Linked DNA regions of Homo sapiens: region 1 is reported to be linked to region 2. Evidence: microRNA targets listed by miRTarBase, many of them from high-throughput screens and not tested one by one. Region 2 holds a microRNA gene; the other region holds the end of a gene's coding sequence.
Evidence for each region. Region 2 holds the annotated microRNA hsa-miR-504-5p (AGACCCUGGUCUGCACUCUAUC, at 2,082-2,103, opposite strand). A microRNA usually pairs through its seed, bases 2 to 8, with sites in the 3' UTR of a target mRNA and lowers its output. Matches are read on the target gene's strand: a 7mer-m8 pairs with bases 2 to 8, a 7mer-A1 pairs with bases 2 to 7 and ends in A, and an 8mer does both.

Region 1 (3,409 bases), not on the chromosome of region 2:
AGTTGTGACACCTGGTGGTGGTCTTGTAATTGCCCACGGCTTTTCCCTCTCCTCTGGACTCTGGCCTCCTCCCTCCCTCTGTGGCCCTAGCACCTGGCAGATGCATTGGATGGGCAGCAGGCACTCAGAACATGTTTTTATAATGAATTCCTCAACCAAGGGAACTAAGGGACTTGCTGTTTCCTTACTGTCACCTGGGATTCTTTTTGCTGTTTTCTACTTTCTGATTGCTTTTCTTCCTGCTAATTCAGTTTCATCTTCTCTTTTCAGATGAAGCTACTAAACTTATACATAAAGAGGGCCCAGACCACCAACAGCAACAGCAGCTCCTCCTCCGATGTCTCCACGCACAGCTAATGGCAGTACCTGTCTCTTGTGTAGACCTAGAAGCAATCGGTGGTGCCTCTCAGAGACCTTTCCCCACCCCCTTCATCGGCTGCCCAGTCAGTACAAGGAGGCCCACAAATATTTATTACAATCAGTATTTTGGTCCCTTCCAGCTTTTCTGTAGAATCTTACTGGTATTGAATGTAAAGGAAGCAAGGCCTGTATTGCAGTCTTCATACAAAACAAAAGGAATAAGAACAGAAAAGAGCCATACTGAAACATGTCTTGTACAGCCTGCTGAGATGGCGAAACCCTGTGTGTGGGGTGCAGTTTTTAAAAATCAGAGCGCTCTAGCCACTACTTGGTAGAAAGTAGCATTTTTTTTTTCAGTTAATAACATATTTGGGGGTGGGGTGGGGTGTTACTTTGTGTTCTTCCTCCTTAGCCTATTTTCTTGTGCGTATGGTCTGTGTGGGGCCCCTTTCACAGCTGACACCACGAAAGGTGATATATCTTTAAGTTGTGTTCTGAGACCTACTAAAAATGGGAATCAAGTCTTGGCAAGAACAGTCTGAAGATGGCCTTTTAACAAACGCTGGGAATTTTGCTTGTCATATCCAGACTGGAGGCCGACTGCCCTGGCTTTCAGCGTAGAATTGGGAGTGCACCCTGACAGTCTCCTTCCAGCTCTCCCTAATCGACTCCACCGACAAGGTCCCTACCCCAGAGCTTCCATGCAAAGGAATTCTTCAAGTTTAAATCTGGACACAAAAATAAGATAAATGTATGGCATCATTTAGGGATGCCTGAGATGGCAGTTCATGAAGCACAGAAGATAAAGAAGAAGTCTTTCATCTTTACTGCTGAGATCCTTGGGAACACTGTTGTCATGGGGGCTCTGCCAAGACCCTCATCTCTGGGCTACACGGTGATTCAGATTGAGCACCAACTTGTTTCCTCCCCTCAAAGTTCTGCCTAAGCCGTTCAGTTCTAACATGGTCTCAGTTAATCTGGTAAATGGCATCTTTACCATCTTAGTTCTGACTTCTCAGTTTAATGTGGGATTAAGAGCCAAGAAAAGCCTAGAGAGACTGGATATCACAATTTTTTTTAATTTTATAAACTGAAGTAGTTCCTTGAATGTCTGTTGATGAAATAGTCACTGTTTAAGGAAAAAAGTAATTATGAGGTGTAGCAGATTGCAGAAAAACAGGATTAGAAACACACTTAAAAAGAACACACATTTAGAGTCTCTCTTCCTCCTCAGCGAACCACTAGGCCCCCTTTTTAAAAACACCTTTAGAGCCTAATTACTCCAATAAAAGTAACTAGAGGTTTGGAGTCTGGTTAAATAAATTCTGAGTAAAATTCTTAAGCCAAATGGAAATTCTTAATGCAATCATGAGGACTTCTATTGTCTCTTACTGTTGTATTAGATCCTATAAATTGAACTGATTTTTCCATAAGGAAAATGCTTCTTTTGAGATTAATTCTAATAACGTATTTGCTATTGCAGTGCAGAGCCCACTGCAACTGCTAGGACTGAAAGCAGAGGCTGGGTGCCAGAGCACGTGATTCTTAACATCATTTCCACAGACCCCTCTGCCCTGACCCTCTGCATTGGATGCAGGAAGCTGGGAAAGACTGATGTTGATTTGGAAACATGGGCTGAAAATGAAGGCCCCATAGTGCATAGGAACAGTAAAGCCAGGGTGCTGACGTGTGTGTGTGTGTGTGTGTGTGTGTGTGTGTGTGTGTGGTGTTGTGTGTGTTTGTGCGTGCACCCTACACATGTGTGGTACCTCACTGCTGCTGTTTAGGGAACTTGAGGGACGCGTTTCAAGGGGTTGGGTATTACTGACGAGCTTTGGCTCAAAATATAGCAGGACCAGGTCTTTTGTTGATAAGTACTGTTTGTTTATTAATATGTCATTAATGGTATTTCTTTTTTACACTCTACAAGTGAATTAGGGAGTCTCTTGTTGACCCCTTTGTTGCAGGAATGTGCGTCGGGCTAGGTTATCCATGAGTTTCTTTATTCCTAATGCAGTTAGAAAGACCTTTCTCCTTGAGCTCTTTGACTCCCAGAAGGTACCCCAGTCCCCAGTGTACTTAGAAAGGATCTCGAACATTGCTGGACGTCCTCATAGTACTCACAAAGGGCTAGCCTTGAATGTCACTCGCCCAGTCTTCAGTCTCCTGACTTAGAGATACAATCACGTCACAGGTCTCTTGGCCTCAATCTGAAAACTGCTGCCGCCGCGCCGAGGAGACTCGCATGCCGCCACCACCTCACTGGGAGGGCGCCGAGCCCACCGTCGCCCCCTAGACCCTGACAGCTGCAGCTGCCTTGCCTTGCCGCCGCCTCCCTGCAGGGCCCCTGTTCCAATGAAAAACAGAACACAAAAGAGCAGAGCACCTAAGCCTGTCTCTGCCTCCCTGTCTACCGGACTGGCCAGGGCCCAAGACCCCCGCTGCTCCACTGCGGGGCTGGGCGGGCTGACTCCCTGCTTCCTCCAAGCTGCTGCCTCCCCTGCAGCCAGGGTCTGGGCAGGGTGCAGCCGGTCCTCGGGGCACGCAGCTTCCTTCAAGTACACTGTGTGTGCTTCCCGGACCTGCGGCGATGCCACGGGCCTGCCTTTTCTATGCGCCTCACTAGCTTACCACCCTGTGCAGGTAATGCAACTGACTTTGTCTCATCAGTCTTTTTCTTTCCCTGCCACCCTTTATTTATCAAGCGTAATGTTACACTTTAAAGGACAGCAAATAAGAACTTTGTAGAATCCCACCAGGACTTTGCTAACAATAATGTTTGGAAATAAAGAAGTGCTCTGAAAAAATATCAGCCACCAAAATAGTTATGTTGGCACTGTGTTCACACGCATGGTCCCCACACCCCCAGGTTGGGTGGGTTTTTTTGTTTTTTGGGTTTTTTTGGGGGGGGGGGCTTTTTCATGTTACATCCATATCTGTATTTATATCTTATTTGTTTCACTTTCAAGTGTATCATGGCAAATGTACAGATTTTTTTGTTAATAATGTGCTAGGATTTGCTAAAAAAGAAAAAAAAAAAACCCTTTTG
Region 2 (3,420 bases):
GTAAGTGCTTGTCAGATGAAGGCAGTTTAACTGAGATGTAGTGGCACTTAATTTTTGAAAAGAAAAGAGAAAGCCCCTACCCTCATGTAAAACTAGTGACAAAAGTGTGTGCCTGACCACTTTTTAAAAGAGCACAAGGATAAGACAGGGCAGCAAAAGGTGCTATTTTAAAGTAAAAAAGAATAGCAATCTGCTATAAAGAGAAAAAAAAGAAAGCAGGGAGCAATAATGCCATCAACTAAATTAGGGCTGACACAGGGCTGGGAGGTACATAATCATCTGTTTCTCAGATACTCAGATGAGAAGTGAAACCATTCCCAGTGTTTTCAAAAATTTTAACATGTATGCTATCACTAAGATGTTTTCATAGGGAGTTTTTGTCCTATGATTTAATTCCCTGGCATTTACATTGTATTTCTTCAATTGTCTACATTTTGAAATCAAAATGTTCAAATGCTGAATGATGGTAGTCTAGACTCTCTAAACTGTCCAACAAAAGACATGGATTTTCTTCTTCCTGAGAAAAGTCTGAGTTGCTATATTATCTCATAAGCCTCATCAATAAGGATCCAATATCTGAGAGTTTTTTCTACATATAATACACTGTGTATTTGCATTCCTGAAAAGAAAAAAATGTGTTTTTATTGTTAAAATCTAGCCATATTCAGTTGTCAGCTAATGAGGAAATTCATGAGAAAGCTACATTCTCCTAAGGTATGATCCAAAAAGTACGTATGACAATAATTGAATAAGAGGTGCTAGAAAGAAGCACTTAAAGAAAGTGAAGTTGGGACATGGCAAAGTGTACTGGAAAGAGTATTGGTTAGGAGTCACAAGACTTGCTTTCTAATTCCAAATTCCAATGTTGTCAATTATTTATTAGCTACGTGTCTTTTGGAAAACCACTTCATCTTTCTGGACATAAGTTTCCTTATCTATAAGGACAGAATAATAAGCCCTTCTCTATCTCACAAGGTGTAGCAGGGATCAAATGAGGAAATAAAGATGAAAATACTATAAATTTTAAAGTGTTAGATATAGGTCTATTTCAATTATCATATATGAACAGAATACAGAAACATATACAACTTATAAATAAAAGATCATTATTCCATTTCCTAACACTTTTTTAAGAATTCAAGTGCCTGATCTAGACATAAAGGTTGTACACATTTAGGTGTGAACAGTTCCTTGTTCCCAAAAACAAAAACAAATAAACAGAGAACAAACTAAATAGATTATTACTATTCAACCACTAAAATGTAGATTAAGAATAATATTTTAATATATAGAGGAATAGTCATAATAACGAGTAAACAGCAGGTTTGAAACATGGTATGCATAGTTATTCCAAATGTACATATATATCTTTATGTAATATATATGTATTTTATATATGTACACATATATGTGTATACATATATTATGCTATATCATATATTAGGTTATATATGTATATTATGTATTTATACATATATATAAAATACGTATATATTACATGAAGATATATATGTATATTTGGAATATATGTATACATATATAATATACATATATATTACATAAAAATGTATATTTGGAATATATGTATATATATAGAGAGAGAGAGAGAAAGAAAGACAAAGACAGAGAGAGAGAGATATACACGAATTCCAGCTAGCCACTACAAGGATCTATAACAGAACATTAATATTGGTTTTCTCTTGGTTGGGGGACTTTGTAGATACCTTTTTGTATTTTCCAATTTTTCTGCAAAGAACATATATTACATTGGTAAACAGAAAATAAACATACACAAAATAACTGTTCAGAAAGAAAAGCTCAATTAGAAACTTAACATTCTTACTGAACCTGACTATAAGAGAGTTACAAAGACATTTCAATAACTACTAAAGAGACTTATCAGGATTGAGTTTCTTCATAGAAGAGGATCAGTTGAATTTTCATGAAGCATTGGGGTGGTGGGGTAAGATTCCAGGTGAAATGGCTTTGAAGTTGAGTTCCAGTCAACATTTGCCATACGGTGGTAGTCTGTGCCCTCTGTATGGGAAACCCTGCCCTGCACTCCCTTCAGTAAGAATACAGATAGAGTGCAGACCAGGGTCTCCCAACAGCAGCTGATTCAACATTCCACTCCATATTTTCTGTCTTCTGTTGTGATTCTATGTGGGAAATGGATGGCTCGTTGAGTTACCTTTTCCTTTTGAGTTATTCCACTTCAGTGATGGACACTAACTGATGAGGGTAGACTGTGGCCTTGTGGATCAGTTCGTCCCCTGTAAACAGCTGTACTTTTGGACTTTACATAAATTTTTCTTAGTCTTAAAAAAAATGACAATTTAATATATGATAGGATTTCCATAGTCTTCCAAGAATTATAGGCTTATATATATTGGCCTGAAGGCAGCATGTTATTATATGGACTGTAACGGCAAATAATATGAAGCATTTGTTAACTTAATGAACTTAACACTGTAAAATGCTGTGCATGTATTATCATTCCATTTAATCCTCTTAAGAACCCTATGAGGTCTATACTACTATTACCTCCATTTTATAGATGAGGAAACTAAAGGACAGATGGATTAATAATTCCTTTGCCCCAAATCATAAACCTTATAAGCATTTGAATTGTGTTTCAAATCCATGTAATGTCAGAGCCCTCCCTCTTAACCACTACAGGCATTTTAAAGGCAGATATTATGTATCATTTATTATGATGCTGCAGCCTGCTTAAAATCAGGATAGCAAAAGGTTGTTGCCACAGGGTAAAAAGGGGAAGAAGTGGGGGAGGGTAGTGTGTTCTATTTCAGAGATAGAGACAATGACTCCATTGTTGGTTATTTTGAGTTTAAAGAGCCATTAGTGATAGGTTAATGTGCAGCAGCCATTTGTATATATAAGCCTGGCTCTCAAGATGAAAGGTGTCTGCATATGGATGGTAACTGAAACCACAAGAATACATTTAATAATCTAGAGAACACAAGCAGAATACAAGACAACTACTGAGGCTGGAAACTGGGGGTGGGGAGGACATCAAACATTTCAGAAAAGACGAGGGAAGTGTAAAAATTAAAAGAAAAATAGTGATGGTGTAGAACAGAGAAAAAGCAGTGTTGTGAAAGCCCACAGAAGAGATGGTTTCAATGAAAAAGTTGACCAACCTGGTCAAGTGCTGTAGAAAGGAGAAATAAGGTAAGGACTGAAGGGAGAAATGGATTTTAGTTGGCAGTCACTAGCGACATTAGCAGGAGGAGTTCATGGATGGCAATGTGGGCAGAAGATAGAATGCGGAGGGCTGAATAATTAAGAATTAGATGAGAAAATAAAAGCAAAGGTGAAGCTGAATAATTTAAAAATAGGCGAGAAAATGAAGAAAGCTCTTGCCTATCAAAGGAAAGAGACAGTCTGAAAGAGAAACTT

Region 1: the mRNA of CLASP1 is a reported target of hsa-miR-504-5p. Seed matches in the 3' UTR shown: 7mer-m8 at 2,868-2,874.

Annotation. Positions count from the first base shown.
Region 1 is chr2:121,337,809-121,341,217 of GRCh38, reverse strand. CLASP1 (cytoplasmic linker associated protein 1) reads left to right here. Exons shown (of 41, transcript NM_001395891.1): 41 at 271-3,409. The coding sequence ends at 357. Among named protein-coding and RNA genes, the nearest start is that of TFCP2L1, 54 kb to the right of the region's middle.
Region 2 is chrX:138,665,679-138,669,098 of GRCh38, forward strand. It overlaps MIR504 (microRNA 504), which reads right to left and starts at 2,115; the gene lies at 2,033-2,115. The region is part of intron 3 of FGF13 (fibroblast growth factor 13); the gene reads right to left.